Linked DNA regions of Homo sapiens: region 1 is linked to region 2. Evidence: fine-mapped expression QTL. A gene starts in region 2. The other region holds a variant in brackets. All regions are shown on one strand. Distances are from middle to middle.

Region 1 (9,069 bases), 18 kb after region 2:
TTCAACGGCCAGAGGTGGGGAAGGCGGGGGTGAGGGAGACACAGAGACAGAGAGAGAGAGACAGAGACACAGAGAGACAGAGACAGAGTGAGGAAGAGAGACATAGGGAGACAGAGACACAGAGAGGGAGAGACAGATCAAGGAAGAGAGACAAGGCAGAGAGACACAGGGAGATAGAGACACAGAGAGACAGAGACAGAGCGAGGAAGAGAGAAGGCAGAGAGACACAGGGAGACAGAGACAGAGACACAGAGAGGCAGAGGCAGAGGGATGGAGAGACCGAGGTGGGCCAGCAGCCTGAGGGCCGGGGAGGACCCTGAGACCCCTGGGTCTGAGTCCTAGTCCCACAGGAAGGCCTACACCGTATCTTCCGCCGGCAACGGGGACCTCCTTTTTGTCCTTGGGAGACTCGACCCCGCCCCCAACATCAATCCCCTTCCCGGCATTGTCCTCGGCGGCCTCCGTCAGGAAGCCCCCTTCCCATGGAGGGTCCCAGCCAGGAAGCCCCCCTTCCCATGGAGGGTCCCAGCCATCCCACCAGCCCCAGACCCCACATCCTGGCCTCCCTGTCCACAGCTGCCGAGGGAGCGTTCCAGATGACTGTGTTGCCCTGAGGGGAAGGGGCTGTGAGGGCGCCGTTGTCCAGGAGCGGAGCACGCCCCAGGCCCTGACAGACCCTTCTTGACCCAGCTGGGCCAGCTCTCCTGTCTCCCACCCACTGGTCAGTTCTGGGGTCCTCATGGCTTTTTCTTTGGAGTGAGGACCCCCATCACGGCAGGGCCTCCTTGTTGGACAAGGCTTGAACCCAGTCCAAGGACCCCAGACCTGAGGGTCGCAAGGAGAGTGGGGGAGGAATGAGATTGATGGAGGCTGCAGGAGGGGGTTCAATAAGTAGCCATGTGCATGCATGTGTGTGTGTGCATGCGTCTGTGTGCGTGCATGCGTGTGTGCGTGTGTACGTGTGGAGTTGTAGCCATGAAGCCCACGATGGGGGTGGGCCTGGCTCCCGCATCAGGTTTAAGGAGGAAGGATCGACCGGGCGCGGTGGCTCACGCCTGTAATCCCAGCACTTTGGGAGGCCCAGGCGGGTGGATCACGAGGTCAGGAGATGGAGACCATCCTGGCTAACACGGTGAAACCCCGTCTCTACTAAAAATACAAAAAAGATTAGCCAGGCGTGGTGGCGGGCGCCTGTAATCCGAGCACTTTGGGAGGCCGAGGCGGGCGGATCACGAGGTCAGGAGATCGAGACCATCCTGGCTAACACGGTGAAACCCCGTCTCTACTAAAAATACGAAAAAAATTAGCCGGGCGTGGTGGCGGGCGCCTGTAGTTCCAGCTACTCAGGAGGCTGAGGCAGGAGAATGGCGTGAACCCGGAGAGGCGGAGCTTGCAGTGAGCCGAGATCGCACCATTGCACTCCAGCCTGGGCGACAGAGCAAGACTGTCTCAAAAAAAAAAAAAAAAAAAAAAAAAAAGGAGGAAGGAAGGATCTTCGTGGCCCACCTGGCACAGGTCCCTGAAGGAACCCTTGTCCGAGTCGAGTCCCTCCCCGCAGGCTGGCCGAGCTGACCACGTCGCTGAGCCTGGGCAGAGCTGACAGGCCTCCCTGGGGTCAGTGACCGCCTGGTGAGGGGCTGGGGCAGTGCTCAGTCTCCAGCAGCCCCGGGGAAATTGGACATGGAGCCTCAGGCGATGATGCTGGTGTGGTCTCCACGGCAGCCCCACCTGAGCTAATCAGGAGGGGTCTGGGGGGATGGGGGTCCATGGGGCAGGAGGCACACTATGGTGAGAGCCGGCTTGGGGCTGGCTCCGCCCAGGGGAGGGGGGGCTTGGGGCTGGCTCCGCCCAGGGAGAGGCGGGGCCTGGGGCTGGCTCCGCCCAGGGGAGGGGGGCTTGGGGCTGGCTCCGCCCAGAGGAGAGGCGGGGCTTGGGGCTGGCTCCGCCCAGGGGAGAGGCGGTGCCTGGGGCTGTCTCCTCCCAGGGGAGGGGGGGCTTGGGGCTGGCTCCGCCCAGGGGAGAGGCGGTGCCTGGGGCTGTCTCCGCCCAGGGGAGGGGGGGGCTTGGGGCTGGCTCCGCCCAGGAGAGAGGCGGTGCCTGGGGCTGTCTCCTCCCAGGGGAGGGGGGGCTTGGGGCTGGCTCCGCCCAGGGGAGAGGCGGTGCCTGGGGCTGTCTCCTCCCAGGGGAGGGGGGGCTTGGGGCTGGCTCCGCCCAGGGGAGAGGCGGTGCCTGGGGCTGTCTCCGCCCAGGGGAGGGGGGGGCTTGGGGCTGGCTCCGCCCAGGAGAGAGGCGGTGCCTGGGGCTGTCTCCTCCCAGGGGAGGGGGGGCTTGGGGCTGGCTCCGCCCAGGGGAGAGGCGGGGCCTGGGGCTGTCTCCGCCCAGGGGAGGGGGGCTTGGGGCTGGCTCCGCCCAGGGGAGAGGCGGGGCTTGGGGCCGGCTCTGCCTGGGGAAGCGGCGAGGCCTGGGGCCCTGGTCAGCTGCTCTGACGCCTTGGTGCTCCCGGGGGCATCTCCAGGCTCACCCCAGCTTCCACGGCCCTGTCTCACGGGTCAAAGGGCCACTCAAAAGCTGCTTTGAAGACGGGGGCCCAGCCAGGAGCCGCACAGGCCTCTCCCGAGGGTCTAGGTGGCTAGAAGGGCACAAGCCACACGGCGTCGCGTCGAGAGACTGAAATTGTCTATGAACCGCCCTCGCCGGGTTTGAGACTAGAGAGCTGGTGTTTACACGACGTCGCAAACACCATAAAGGGCACTAAACTGTTTCTTTAAAAGCCTTCTTTTTTTTTGAGACGGAGTCACTCTGTCGCCCAGGCTGGAGTGCAGTGGTGAGATCTTGGCTCACTGCAACCTCCGCCTCCTGGGTTCAAGCGATTCTCCCGCCTGAGCCTCCTGAGTAGCTGGGATTATAGGCACGTGCCACCATGCTCAGGTAAGTTTTGTATTTGTAGACTTTTTTTTTTTTTTTGAGACAAAGCCTCACTCTGTCACCCAGGCTGGAGTGCAGTGGCACGATCTCAGCTCACTGCAACCTCTGCCTCCCAGGTTTAAGCAATTCTGTCTCAGACTCCGGAGTAGCTGGGACTACAGGCGCCTGCCACCACGCCCAGCTAACTTTTGCATTTTTAGTAGAGACAGGGTTTCACCATATTGGTCAGGCTAGTCTCAAACGCCTGACCTCAGGTGATCCGCCCGCCTTGGCCTCCCAAGGTGCTGGGATTACAGGCGTGAGCCACCGCGCCTGGCCAATTTTTGTATTTTTAATAGAGACGGGGTTTCCCCATGTTGGTCAGGCTGGTCTTGAACTCCCCACCTCAAGTGATCTGCCCACCTTGGGCTCCCAAAGTGCTGGATTACAGGTGTCAGCCACCGCGCCTGGCCCTGAAGCCTCCTTTCTAACACGAATATCAACTTAGAAACGGACGCAGCTATTGGAAAACATGTGCAACAGCTAGGGTTTGTGAAGCCACTTTTCCAACTAGAACTTTAGTGGCCTGAAGTGCAGGTTGAATATTTCCTGTGAGAATTAGGAAGTGGACACAAATGTGCAAAATACACACTGGGCTCTGAACGCTCAGCGTGAACAAAGAGTGTACAGCATCTCAACATGTATTGCTTATGAATCGAAAGGATAGTATTTTGGACACAGTGGATTAAATAAGATAAAGATACATCTTTGTTTTACGTTTCTTTCTTTCTTTTTTTTTTAGCTGGAGTTTCACTCTTGTCGCCCAGGCTGGAGTACAGTGGTGCTATCTCGGCTCACTGCAACCTCCACCTCACGGGTTCAAGTGATTCTACTGTGACGGCCTTCCAAGTAGGTGGGACCACAGGCATGCGCCACCACGCCCGGCTAATTTTTGTATTTTTAGTAGAGACGAGGTTTTGCCATGTTGGCCAGGCTGGTCTCAAACTCCTGACCTCAGGTGATCCACCTGCCTCGGCCTCCCACAGTGCTGGGATTACAGGCGTGAGCCAACGC[G/A]CCCGGCCTTGTTTTATGTTTCATACGATTTATTTTACTTACTACCACCCATTTCTTTTCTTCTTTCTATCGTGGCCGCCGGACGTGGGGCTCCCGCTCCGCTTCTGGGGACGCCGCTCTGGCCTCTCTCAGCACCGGGCAGGGGCCAAATGTGGGTGTTCGCCCTGGGTCGGGGTTCAGGCAGAGCCGCAGCCTCCTGGCTGGGAGGGTTCTCGCCTGCAGGCCGGCGGCCTCTGAGGACGACTCGCTCTCCATTCGCCACCCAACCCGCGCTGAGTGCTGGACATCCCGAGCGCGCTCTCCGTCCCTGCAGTTCCTAACGGGTTGGGAGGGTGGTTCTCCCCCGGCCGCAATCCCGCCCCCAGGAGGCACTAACCCTAACGTGGCATCTGGGGCCATCTGTGGTTGTCACGACTGGGAAGGGGGAGATCCTGGCCTGCACGGTCACCCACAGGCCCGACGGCCCCCGGGAGCCTGTTTCGGGTGCAGCACACCCGGGCTGGATCGAGCACGGTCGGGGAGGATGCGGGGCTGGGCCAAGGCCCTCGGCTCTGCAGGGAGGACGGAGAGCGGGTCCGGGGGGTCCGGGGAGGGAACGGGGCCGAGGCTCTGCGTCCACTGCCGGGCCGATGGGCCATGGGCTGCGAGGGCGGGTCGGGCGTAGAGGGTCTGGCTGGGAGGGCGGGTCAGAGGTCGGGGCCGCGGGCTGCGAGGGCGGGTCAGAGGTCGGGGCCGCGGGCTGCGACGGCGGGTCGGGAGTCGGGGCTCGGCCTGCGAGGGTGGGTCAAGGGTAGGGGGTCCCGGTCGGGGCCGCGCTCAGCACTCAAAGCGCCGCCATCCCTGCTGATGACATTCTCGACCCGCAGGGCGCAGCTGACCAGCCGCTCCCCCTCCTTTTCCGCGGGTGCAGCTCACTGGCCCTGCCACTGCGCGCGCACCCACCCCGCCCACAGCTCCCGGCAGCTCCCGCGCGGCCCCCGCAGCTGAACCACAACTCCCGCCATGCCGCGGAGCGCGGGGCGCCGGGGCGTGTGGCCCACAAGGCTTTGCGCGCTGGCGGGGCCGCTCTAGCCCGCGGTCCTCCGAGTTCGTGGCGGGCTGATGCGGGCTTGGGGCGGGCGGCGCGGACGCCCTGGCGGCTGTCTCGCCCCGTGGTCGGTCTCCTCGCGTTCCCACTGCGGGGCGCCCCGGCTGCCCTTGCGTGGGGCCCGGCACGGGGCGGCCGAGGGGGCGTCCCCGCCGCGAGTCTTCCAGCGCGCTGGTCCCGGGAGGCCTGGCCGTTCGCCCAAGGAGCCTGGTGTCCCCGGGCGGAGACTGGGAAGCCGGGTCCTGTTCCCCGGCGCTGGGCTCGCTGCGGGGGTCGGGGCCGCAGGGCCCGGTCGGGGATCCAGGTTCCGGGACGCGGATTCTGGAGTAGGGGCTGCGGGGCTTCCGGCCCGCTTCGCGGGTCAGGGTCACCGGGAGGCCGTGGTTGCGTTGGGGGTACCCGGACGTCAGTCCCAGCAGCGCGAGGGACGAGGGCGCTCGTTAGTTCCACACTGATTTACTTGTTATTTTTTTGAGACGGAGTCTCGCTCTGTCGCCCAGGCTGGAGTGCAGTGGCGCCATCTCGGCTCACCGCAAGCTCCGCCTCCCGGGTTCACGCCATTCTCCTGCCTCAGCCTCCCGAGTAGCTGGGACTACAGGCGCCTGCCACCACGCCCGGCTAATTGTTTGTATTTTTAGTAGAGACGGGGTTTCACCGTGTTAGCCAGGATGGTCTCGATCTCCTGACCTCGTGATCTGCCCGCCTCAGCCTCCCGAGGAGCTGGGATTACAGGCTTCAGCCACCAAGCCCGGCCTTTTTTTTTTGTATTTTTAGTAGAGATAGTGTAGCAGGAAGAGCCGCAGACAAAACTCCTCAGACACCCAGTTAGAGAAGGAAGCGGTTTATTCGGCCGGGGCCATCGGCAAGACTCCTGTCCCAAGAGCCGAGCTCCCCGAGTGAGCAATTCCTGTCCCTCTTCAGGGCTCACAACTCTCAGGGGGTCCGCGTGAGAGGGTCGTGATCGATTGAACAAGCAGGGGGTACGTGACTGGGGGCTGCATGCACCGGCAATCAGATCGGAACAGAACAGGACAAGGGTTTTCACAGTGCTTTTCCATACAATGTCTGGAATCTATAGATAACGTAACCCAGTAGGTCAGGGGTCGCTCTTTAACTACCAGGCCCAGGGCACAGCGCCGGGCTGTCTGCCTGTGGATTTCATTTCTGCCTTTTAGTTTTTACTTCTTTCTTTGGAGGCAGAAATTGGGCATAAGACAATATGAGGGATGGTCTCCTCCCTTAATAGAGTTTCACCATGTTGGCCAGGCTGGTCTCGAACTCCTGACCTCAGCTGATCCCCCCTGCCTCATGCTTGTTATTATTTTGACACAGGGTCTCACTCTGTGGCCCAGGCTGGAGCGCAGTGGTGCGATCTCCACTCACTGCAACCTCCGCCTCCTGAGCTCAAGCAATCCTCCCGCCTCGGCCTTCCAAAGTGTTGGGACCACAGGCACACGTCATGCGCCCTGCCAGCACATCTTTATTGAGTGCCTGCTGTATGCCAAGCGTTGTTTTAAGTGCCAAGGAGACAGCAGAGTGCAAGGTGGGCTGACCTCGGCCCGAAGGAGCTTACATTCTAGTGAGCAGCAGGGAAGAGAGACCATGAGCCAGGCTAGTTATGCCATAAACCTCGGGCATAATACCGAAGTGGTGCTGTGCGGAGAAATGTTGAACAGCTGGCTCTCCAAGGGAAAAGGCCCTCACTTGCAGCGCACGCCGCCCCCTGTGTTGTAAATACTCCCATCGTGGCTGCCAACATGAGCCAACCAGCTCACAGATCGCCGCGAACTTCACAGTGGGCTCAGGAGCTGGCATGAGCAGCTCCAGCCGCCGCTGCAATAGGTGAGGCGTGGAGAGTGCTGCTGGGAAGAAGGAAAAGGCAGGGAAGGGGGCAGGCAGCATGATGATAGGCAGGTTGCAGGATCAAATCTGTGGTCCCGATAGGCCGGGCATGGCGGTTCACACCTGTAATCCCAGCACTTTGGGAGGCTGAGGTGGGCGGATCACTTGAGGTCAGGAGTTTGAGACCAGCCTGGCCAACATGGTGAAACCCCATCTCTATTTCTTTCCTTCTTTTTTTTGAGATGGAGTCTTGCTCTGTCGCCCAGGCTGGAGTGCACTGGCACAATCTCGGCTCACTACAAGCTCCGCCTCCCGGGTTCACGTCATTCTTCTGCCTCAGCCTCCTGTGTAGCTGGGACTACAGGCGCCTGCCACCACGCCTGGCTAATTTTTTGTATTTTTAGTAGAGACGGGGTTTCACTGTATTAGCCAGGATGGTCTCGATCTCCTGATCTCGTGATCTGCTCGCCTCAGCCTCCCAAAGTGCTGGGATTACAGGCGTGAGCCACCGCTCCCGGCCCCATCTCTATTAAAAAAGACAAAAATTAGCTGGGTGTGGTGACGGGCGCCTGTAATCCCAGCTACTTGGGAGGCTGAGGCAGGAGAATCGCCTGAACCCACCAGGCGGAGGTTGCAGTGAGCCGAGATTGCGCCACTACCCTCCAGCCTGGGTGATAGAGCAAGACTCCATCTCAGAAAAACAACAGAAACAAAAAATCAATCAATCAATCAGTGGTCCAAGGAAGATCCTGGAGGTGGAGAGATTTGAGCAAGGCCTTCCTGGAGGGGGAGGGAGTTGGACCGGGTGTATCAGGCAGAATGTACGGTGAGTGCAGAGGCTGAGTCCGGAGGGACCAACGCAGCCAGAGAGGGCAGGAAGGACCTGGGCTTGTAGGACCTTGCAGGCTACAGCAGAGCCCACTAGGACCCCTCTCCAGCCCCCCAAATCCTCGGAATACAAGCCCTTCCTTCCTCTGAGCTTCGGTGTCCTCGTCTGTAACATGAGGACTTGCCAGGCATGGGCTGGGTGCCCAGCAGAGCCTGAGAGCTGGTCCTGTCCTCACTGTCCCACGGGGACAGCAGGCTCTCTCTGGATGAGGATGGAGGGGAGCTGGCAGGTTCTCTGTGTCCTTGCGGGAAGAACAAGCCTTCCTTGTTAGAGTCTCCCGGGAACAAAGGGGCGGGCAGCAGCAGGGCGCGTGAGTCTGAGTCAGGGGGCTGGCCGCCGGACAAAGGACAGCAGTGAGCAGCCTCAGGGAAGTGGGGAGTGGCAGATCACGGAGGCTGGGAGCATGAGCTGACCCTGGACGGGCCGGTGGCAGCAGCCACAAACACCTGGCCTCCCCCTCTCCTGCTGTGCCGTGTGCCAGGGACACAGAAACAGCAGGTCATCGGAGGAACCCGGCCTCCTGGGAGCTGCCTCCCAGCTGTCGCACCCTCATCTGCAGCCGGAGGATGTGTTTTAGGAAAGAATGTCGGGAACTTGGGGCTGGCACCGTGGCTCACACCTGCCCTCCCGGTGCTTTAGGGGGCTGAGGTGGGAGGATCGCTAACCCCAGGAGGTCAGGGCCGCCTCATTCCCACCATTCTCTGATCACCCTTCTCCACCGTCAGTGAGCTGTGATCGCGCCAGCCTGGATGGTGGAGTGAGACCTTGTCTCTAGAGAAAAGAACGGTGGGACTTGGATCGGCAGCAGCCACAGCAGTCATGTCTGTCATCTGGACTATTGTAGAGCTTCATTCCACTCACTGGCTCAGCAGGCACTCACTGCGCACCTGTTCTGGGCAGGCGGTGTTTGGGATGCCCAGGGCGCCACGGGGCTCGGGCACGCCCGGCTCCTGCCTCTTCGTGTTCCTATGTGAGCACGCGTGTGTGTGCGCGCCTGCCTGTGTGTGCCTCATCGTGCGCACCCACGTGGTGTAAACGTGCACCTGTGTGTGTGTGTGTACGTGTGTTACGTGGTAGAGCACGGCAATGACCCTCCATAAACAACTAAGCAGGTCAGCAGGGTCCTCCGCTGGGTTGAGGTTGCACCCGCCCTTCCAGGACCCTCCCCTCCTCTCACTCCCCTTCACCCCACAGCGTCTCAGAAAATCTTGTGAGTTCTGCCTTCAAGACAGGCCCAGAACCCACCCACTCCTGACCATCCCACAGCAGCCCC
Region 2 (9,063 bases):
CTGGTCCAGCTCCGCAAGCATCCACGCGGCCCCTCGGTGTGCAGGGCTCTGTGCCTGGCCCAGGCCTGCCTCGGGTGTTCGTCTGCCCCTCCCAGCTGTGTGCACTCTCCTTTTCTGCACCTGGCCTTGTGCATCTACGGAGTGGGGGTTCTTGTGAGGACGGGAGAACGGGGCTGGAGCCAGGTGCTCAGGACAGCAGCTGGCATACGTGTGGGAGGCCCCACCTGCTTATTTTGGGCTGTAATTAGGGCTGCAGCTCAGCCACAGCTGCCTTGAGGGGCAGGAAGACACACAAAGAGGTAATTACAGCCTGGTGAGATCACAGCCATGATGACGGCAGGAGACAGGAAGGTGACAGCCCACTTCAAGGCGGCCGCATACCCGCCCCTCCTGGGCTCCCGGGCGGCTCCCAGCAGAATCATCGGGTGAGGGAGGAGGAGGAAGAGGAAGGCAGCAAGCTCTGGGCTCGGAGGAGGAGGCCGGGGCTGGAACGTCAGCTCTGCCTGTGACGGTGGCCTCTGGGCCTTGGTTTCCCTGATTGCAAAATGGAAAGCGGGAGCCCAGCCAGGGCTCCGTCTGTGTCGGCTCCTACACAGAGCGGTTTGTAAGGCGTGTGAGCATTTGTTAATACAGGAAAGATTCTATTTATGGAACGTCTCCAGAAAGAGACAGGAGCCACCCTACACCTTAGACTTCTGCTTCCCACTCCTGCCCCCAGCAGACGCCGGGCGGTGTCTGGGACATCTGTGGTTGTCACGACTCGGGGAGCTCCTGGCAAGGAGTGGGTGGAGGCCAGGGACGCTGCTCAGGGCCCTGCAGTACCCAGGACGGCCCCCAGAGGACGAGTCGGGGGAACCCTGGCCCAGATCAGCTGGGGCTTCGTTTTCGTGCACGTTTTCCTGGCAGTGACCTGCAGGGGGCAGTGCAGCCCTTGCTGCCAGGATGAGCAACGTGGTGGCTGAGGAGGCCTCCGGGGCTGCACTCTGGGGCTCTCTGACCCCAGCTCTGCCCTCGGTGGCCGTGTGGCCTTCAGCAAGTCATGTAACGTCTGTGTGTGTGCTCCAGGGGGCCTTGGAGACGACCAGGAAGGTGGCAGGAGGGGGACACTGTGGCTGCCATCACCAGCCCTGGCGGCCGGAGCTTGCCATTTCTCAAAAGAAGGTGCCAGGGAGGATCTGGGGTGACTTCTCCCCCAGCCTACCACGGTGATGCTCTCAGGAGCAGCCCCAGTCAGCCCCTCAGCCTTTGGGGGTCAACACACTGGACTGAGTGGGGACAAATCTGCCAGGCTCTGAGCTTCTCTTTTTTTTTTTTTGAGACAGAGTCTCGCTCTGTCGCCCAGGCTGGAGTGCAGTGGCGCGATCTCGGCTCAATGCAAGCTCCGCCTCCTGGGTTCATGCCATTCTCCTGCCTCAGCCTCCCGAGTAGCTGGGACTACAGGCGCCCGCCACCACACCCGGCTAATTTTTTGTATTTTTAGTAGAGACGGGGTTTCACCGTGTTAGCCAGGATGGTCTCGATCTCCTGACCTTGTGATCCGCCCGCCTCGGCCTCCCAAAGTGCTGGGATGACAGGCGTGAGCCACCGCGCCCGGCTGCTCTGGGCTTCTCTTCCTGACTGGTCAGGTGACCTCAGGGGTTCCTGACGGTCCAAGGATGGAGGGGCGGCCGGAGCTGCCTGCTGGGAGGACGGGAGCAGGCCTGGCTCCATGAGCACAGAATCAGATGCCACGCAGGTCTGTGCACCTGTCTTCTGCATTCCCCACTGGCTGTGTCTCTGGGGAGCCCAGGCGAGCCCAGGGCCGGGATGCATCTGCCACCAGCACCACCCTTGCCCTGAGTCCCTGCTATGAGAACTCTTCCAGCCAATGGCTCCACTCCTGTCCTGGGGTGACTGGTGCCCACCAAACTCACGCCCATCCAGAACCTCAGACTGAGAGCTTATTTGAGACAGCAGCTTTGCAGATGTAGGCGGTTGAGGTCACACTGGAGTAGGGTGGGGCCTAGTGGTGTCCTTATGAGGGAACACAGAACAGAGACACACAGGAGGCCACGTGACGACGGAGGCAGAGACTGCAGCAATGTGGCCACAAGCCAAAGACTGCTGGCCGCCACTGGAGGCTGGGGAGGCAAGGAAGGCTCCTTCCCTGGAGCCTCCAGAGGGAGTGTGGTCCTCCTGACACTCCGATTTCAGACTTCTGCCCTCCAGAACTGTGAGAGAATAAATTTCTGTTGTTTTAAGCCACTAAGTTGGAGGTAATTTGTTCCAGCAGCCCTCGGAAATTAATATAAATATAAATATCCTCATCTGCAGTGTCTACGGGGTGAGTGGCTTGTGCAGTGCTCAACCTGAACAACCATACGTGGTGGGCCTGCTGTTGACCCCTTTTCCTCCTTGGGAGATTCTCTTCCGGATGTCCTGGGAGGCCATCTTCCTCCTGCTCCCCGTTCACCTCTGGTCTCACGTTCTCACCCTCTCTGGTGGGCTCTCTGGGCTAGGTGCCCTCAGAGTGGGGTCCTGAGCTCTTCTCATCTCTCCTGAAGACTTCAGGACCCCTCCAGTTCAGTCTTCTGTCCTGGCCCCACGTCAGTTGCAGACGCTTCTTTCTACCTTCCTGTCTCCAGGCTCCTCCCAGCCTCCAACTTAATCCGCAAGTGGCTCTGGCAGCTTCTTCAAACCAGGGGCCTTCCATCGCAGTAAACGGCTCCACTGACCCTCTGGGCCTGCCCTTGCCCGCTCCCCTCCCACCTGGCTCCAGCAAATCATCGGGCGGGGCCTTCAGAGCCACTGGGCCACCGGAGCAAGTCTGCTCCTTGTCCAGGTACCCAACACCCTGCCACCCTTATCTGAGTATGATCTTGGACACCTGTGCACCCTGAACGTGGTAGGGGGGACACTCCCCATCTCTCTTCTCCCCCCGAACTTCTCTGGGACTCTGGCGAGGGCTGCCATGGTGGGCGCTTATGCCCTGGTTATGAGGCTGAAAGGGCACCTTTGCTTGGCATCCTTCCCTGCCTGCTCTTCCCACCCCCTTCCTGGGTTCTCTTGGGCGCACCCCCTTGTAAAATCACCTGCACACACAATGCCTACCTCAGGCTCCGCTTCTGGGGACCCCCCCCCCAACAAAAGACATCAGCCCATCCATCCCCAACGCCAACAGATAGTCCCCAACCACCTTCCCTGGGCTCAGAACTGGCCCCAGCCAGGGGACACCGCGCGTAGGCACCTGCAGCCTCGCATGCTTCAGCCAAATTCCGTGGCTTTCCCGCCTCCCGTGTGCCCCACACTCGGGGTCTAAATTTGCACCTGCTGGGCCTCTTCCCTGCAACCCGCCCGCACATCGCCAGGCTCTTCCAGGAATCCCCACCTGCCCGCTGGGAGCCTGTCCCCTAAGATGGGGGCCCTGGGTGACTGCGCTGCTCTCTGTAAATATTCACGTTCTGGCTGAATGGACGGGGATAACATGAGGCTGCTAAGGAGGCGACTAGGAGGACCTGGCTCGGGGGCTGGCTCTGCGACCTCGGGCCAAGTCCTCTTGAGCTGCACGATTTTGAAAATCATGAACTGCAAGGGGAAACTCAGCACCTGCAAAAAGGCATCACAGAAGGCGAAGCCGGCCAGAAGGACTCGCGCCGCATGCAGCGCGCTGCCTAGCGCCGGACCGAAGCCCGGACCCTCCAGCCCACCTTGTCCGATCCATCCCACCCAAGAAGGCATCGCGCACTACAACTCCCAGCAAGCCCCGGGCCCCTGCGCCGGCGCTGCGGGTAGGGAGCCGCGCGCGGCATGCTGGGAGTTGAAGTCCATCGCTGCCCCACCCGCCCAAGCCGGCCCACTGCGCACCTCTGGGAGTGGTGGGCCAGGCGAAGGTGCCATAGCGCGCGGCCCAGGCGCTGCTGCTGCAGCAGGAGCTGGCCCGGGGGCTCCCCGGCGCCGCCGTTTACAGGCGAGCGCAGGCCCATGTTCTCGAAGTAGTGAGCCAGGAAGGCGATCGGCTCCTCGGGCCGCGCCTCCAGCACCTTCAGCAGGGCCGCACGTAGCATTTCCGTCACGCCGACCTGCCGCAGGAAGTCCTCCTCGCTCTCGGCCGCCCCCGCCGCCCGGGATACCGACTGGCGGCCGCTGTCCGTGAAACCGGCCGGCGGTGGTACCGCTTGCCGCCGCTTCTCCACTGCCGCCATCTTCGCTGAGGGCAGCGGGACCGGAAGCACCGCCATATTCCACTGTGCGCTAGAGCCCCCCCAAGGCGGCCATCTTGATTAAGGGCAGAGGGCACCGGTATCCCGCTGGGAGACTTTGGGAAGTGACAAGGGTACGCTACCACTTTCCTTGTGTCCTTATTGGCACTCTCTCTTCTCCTCCCTCTTTGTGTATATTGATTGGCTCTCCTGGCTTTGGCCTCGGTCCTGAATTTTGCCAGACTCCAAAATGGCTGCCTCGGAAGTGCTTCGTTTCTGGCACAAAGCCGGATTGCTTGCCATTTGGGTAGTGAGCGAGTCCTTCATTAGCATGGTCTCCTAGCAACCAGTCTCCCTGGTTAGCAGAGAAGCCTGACGGAGCATGCGCGGGGCTGGACCTGCCCAGGACTGCTGGACCCAGCCCCGCGCCCGGCCCCCAGACCCTTTTCTCATGTTCATCTCTGAGCCTTGGTGCTGGGGGTCGAGCTCAGCCTGGCCTTCCGCCTAACTCAGTCAACGTCTGAGTGCGTAGCTCACCTCGTGGGAGAAGCCCCCTCCCCAGCTCCGCTGCAGCTGCGCTGAGCCCCTATTGGCGGCCACACGGGCGAGCATCCCGCGCTGTTACCCCCTGACCGCCAGAGGGAGCTTTCTGACACCGCAGCCTCCAGAGCTGTAAACTCTGCCATGGCTCTCCAGGGCCCCCGGGCTGGCACCTCCAGGCCTTCATCGCCTGACCTCGCTTCCGGCCGCCCTCCCGGCCCTCCCAACCCTCCGCAGCCCGCAGCCACCTCAAAACACAAGCAGTCTCCTCCATAAGCCGCCTCTGGGTGTGTTTCCCCAGGCGACCTCTGTGGATCTTCCCTCACTGCTTTCGGGGACTCCTGGTTAAGCTTCTCACCGAGGAAACCACTAAGCCCTCGCGTTTCCCCGCCCCGGGCAGAGCTTGCTGGGTGCCGTCCCCGTCCCTCAGGGGCGTTGCCCCGGGCAGGGGGCAATGAGAGCTGTTTGCCGGGGGACCGTTCCACCATCCTCCCAGCACAGGAATCTCTGGCGGGCAGACCAAATGCCCTTTGTAAAACGTGAAGTAGAGGTTCCTCTTCAAATGAGACTTTCCTCCCCATCTAATTAGGAATAAATAGTAACTTCTCTTAGAAGCAAAATGTATTCAAAGGCCTGTGGTAGGCCGGGCGCGGTGGCTCACGCCTGTCATCCCAGCACTTTGGGAGGCCGAGGCGGGCGGATCACGAGGTCAGGAGATCGAGACCATCCCGGCTAACACGGTGAAACCCCGTCTCTACTAAAAATACAAAAAATTAGCCAGGCGTGGTGGCGGGCGCCTGTAGTCCCAGCTACTCGGGAGGCTGAGGCAGGAGAATGGCGTGAACCCGGGAGGCGGAGCTTGCAAGTGAGCCGAGATCGCGCCACTGCACTCCAGCCTGGGCGACAGAGCGAGACTCTGTCTCAAAAAACAAACAAACAAAAGACCTGTGCTAACATTCTTTGTTAATTAATTGTTAATGTTATATTGAATATATATAATGTAATAAGGAAATCAACATACTTTATGTTCTTAGTGCCCACAATGTAGGCTAAATATCTGCCCTGGCATGCTTATACTGGTCCAAGCAAGCATTAGGTCATAACCTGTTCCTCTTCCTTATTTGAAGGTGTTTTTACCTTTCTTAGCATTCCACAAGCTACTTCTTCCTTCCTTTGTTCTCCTCTGCCTTTGCCTCTTTTTAAAAGTTCCAAGCTGCTAGCCGATCGGGATAAATACAGAATGTGAGGTCCCGTTCCAGCCAATGGAAACCGTCCCGTTCCAGCCAATGGAAACCGGACAGAGCAGTAGGGTGGACGCGTCAGGTTATAAATGACCCTGTCTCCTTTGTTCTGGATACTCTCGTGGCAAAACTGCTGGCCAGTGTACCCTTTCTGCAGAAAGTAAAACAGTGGCCTTGCTGAGGAAATGACATTTATATTCAAGTGCTATTTCTTTACGGCACCGGGGAACAAGCATTTCTAACACTTTCTTCTCCAGCCCCGGACTGTGGGATGAGGGAGATGGAGCCATCAGGGCAGGACCCACAGTCAACCCTCTGCTGTCCGGAGCCCTCAGACCTCTCCTCTCCACGGAGTGGGTGTCAACTGAGAAAACTGACACGTTTGTATCATTTTAGGAGGTTTATTTGCCAAAGCCTCAGGAGGTCCTGACGACAGGGGCCCAGGGTGGTCAGGGCACAGCTTGGTCTTACGCATTTTTAGGGAGACGTGAGACATGAATCAATGTATGTAAAAAGTACGTGGTTCCGTCCAGAAAGGTGGGGACCACTCAGGGAGGGGCTTCAGGTCATGGGTAGGTGAGACAAACAGTGGCCTTCTTTTGAGTTTCTGATGAGCTTCTCCAAAGAGGCAATCAGAACATGCATCCATCTCTGTGAACAGAGGGATGACTTTGAGTAGAATGGGAGGCAGGTTTGCCCTGACCAGTTCTCAACTTGAAGGGGTCCAAGCTATTTTGCTTTCACAGGGGGAAAGGCTGGCCACTCAGGAGGGGCTGATCCCGACCTGGCCGGTCCCCCTTAACCCAGCCCAGGCCGACACCTGGGGCAGAAGCCTCAGAGAAGCTGGTGGGTGGGTGTCGTCCTCAGCCAGGTGCCGGCAGCGTTTCCAGAGGTGATAGGTGGGCAAGGCCAGGAGCAGCAGTCCCAGCACCGCACTGCTGGTCCACAGAGCCGCGGGCAGCTGGTCACCCGCAGGTTTGGACGCTGGGGAGAGAGTGCAGGAGACCCCGGTCAGAGCCCTCCAGGCCTCTGCAGGCTTGGGAAGGGAGGAGCCCCTCAGAGGCTACACGTGCTTCCAAAGTTACCACGTTCCCTGAAATTTCACAAAGGACTTTACCATGACCCTTTTGAAATGCGCATAGCACCTTAGAGTTTAGAAATGGGCAGTCCAGGCCAGGCGGGGTGGCTCACGCCTGAAATCCCAGCACTTCGGGAGGCCAAAGCGGGTGGATCACGAGGTCAGGAGTTCGAGACCAGCCTGACCATGGTGAAACCCTGTGCCTACTAAAAATACAAAGTTAGCTGGACATGGTGGCAGGCGCCTGTAATCCCAGCTACTTGGGAGGCTGAGGCAGGAGAATCACTTGAACCCGGGAGGTGGAGGTTGCAGTAAGCTGAGATCGCACCACTGCACTCCAGCCTGGGTGACAGAATGAGACTCTGTCTCTCAAAAAAAAAAAAAAAAAAAAAAAAGGGCAGACCGGAGAGAGGACGGCTCACCACCATGAAGGGTGCTGAGCCTACAATCTGCACTTTGAAGACTTAGTCTGGGGAAAAGGGAGGAATGTAATATATCTCCTTCATACTATTTTATATTGATTACCTGTTGAAATGATAATGCTTGGGATATATTGGGCTCTGCGAAATGTATGACCACACTTTTTTTTTTTTTTCGAAATGGAATCTTGCTCTGTCCCCCAGGCTGGAGTGCAATGGCGTGATCTTAGCTCACTGCCACTTCCGCCTCCCGGGTTCAAGTGATTCTCCTGCTTCAGCCTCCCGAGTAATCCTCAGCTGGGATTACAGGCACATGCCACCACACCTGGCTAATTTTTGTATTTTTAGTAGAGATGAGGTTTCACCATGTTGGCCAGGCTGGTCTCGAACTCCTGACCTCAGGTGATCCTCCTCCTTGGCCTCCCAAAGTGCTAGGATTATAGGCATGAGCCACCGTGTCTGGCCAACACTTTTTTTTTTGAGACTGAGTCTTGCTCTGTCACCCAGGTGTGATCTCAGCTCACTGCAGCCTCAACCTCCTGGGCTCAAGTGATCCTCCTGCCTCGGCCTCCCAAAGTGCTGGCATTACAGGCATGAGCTACCATGCTTGGCCCGACCACATTATTTTTACTTTTAATTTTTTTTTTTTTTTTGAGACGGAGTCTTGCTGTCTCCCAGGTTGGAGTGCAGTGGCGCGATCTCGGCTCACTGCAGGCTCCGCCTCCCAGGTTCACGCCATTCTCCTGCCTCAGCCTCCCGAGTAGCTGGGACTACAGGCGCCCGCTGCCACGCCCGGCTAATTTTTTGTATTTTTAGTGGAGACGGGGTTTCACCGTGTTAGCCAGGATGGTCTCGATCTCCTGACCTCGTGATCCGCCCGCCTTGGCCTCCCAAAGTGCAGGGATTACAGGCATAAGCCACCGTGCCCGGCCCATTTTTTTTTTTGAGATGGAGTCTCGCTCTGTGCCCCAGGCTGGAGTGCAGTGGCGCGATCTCGGCTCACTGCAAGCTCTACCTCCCGGGTTCATGCCTTGCCTTTACTTTTAAATTTGAAATTACCTGTAGGAAGTAGAAAAGTTCCTCTTCAAAGCTCGTCTTGATTTACAAATAAAATAATAGACATAGACACTAGAAATAATAGCTTCTTACTCTAAAGCCTCCTATCAGCTATTAGTTCTTACACTTTAGCCCAGTTAGTTGCTTGGGCTTACCCAGGCATATCTGGAGAGTCCCAGGGAAGTCTTAGCTCATAGCTTATGCCCCTTCCTTATTTGGAAATGTTACTGCTTCCTCAAATCTTTCGTAAGCAACTTCCTCTCCTTGTTTGTCCTCCTTTGCGCTTACCTACTTAGGAAAGTTTTAGGTTGTTAGCAAACTGGGTATCAGTTTAAGAGTGTGATATCCTGCTCCAGCCAGTGGATGCAGGACACAGCAGTAAGGGCGACCCAAATGTGTGAGGGATAAATATGTCTGCTTTTCCTTTGTTCAGCTGTGCTCTCGCCATTGTTCCGTCTACAATGAGCACCCTTTCTGCAGAAAGTAAAAGTGGCCTTGCTGAGAGAATTAAATTTGTTTGAGTGCTATTTCTTTGTGGCACTGGGGGACAA

Evidence for each region.
Region 1: its variant is fine-mapped to the expression of MADCAM1-AS1 in nucleus accumbens (GTEx, PIP 0.99).

Annotation. Positions count from the first base shown.
Region 1 is chr19:484,991-494,059 of GRCh38, reverse strand. LOC124904608 (a long non-coding RNA gene) reads right to left here and starts at 4,894. Exons shown (of 2, transcript XR_007067072.1): 1 at 4,355-4,894; 2 at 3,990-4,194. It also overlaps a transcript of CIMAP1D not described here. RefSeq lists silencers at 4,505-4,554, 4,625-5,254 and enhancers at 4,082-4,583, 7,889-8,407. The variant G/A (reference allele first, on the strand shown) is at 3,979.
Region 2 is chr19:502,625-511,687 of GRCh38, reverse strand. It overlaps MADCAM1-AS1 (MADCAM1 antisense RNA 1), which reads left to right and starts at 3,799. Exons shown (of 3, transcript XR_936221.4): 1 at 3,799-4,312. It overlaps MADCAM1 (mucosal vascular addressin cell adhesion molecule 1), which reads right to left. Exons shown (of 5, transcript NM_130760.3): 5 at 6,345-6,943. The coding sequence ends at 6,723. TPGS1 (tubulin polyglutamylase complex subunit 1) reads right to left here and starts at 4,191. Exons shown (of 2, transcript NM_033513.3): 1 at 3,844-4,191. The coding sequence starts at 4,181. RefSeq lists enhancers at 1-610, 909-1,208, 4,046-4,385, 4,258-5,115 and silencers at 765-1,059, 4,916-5,045.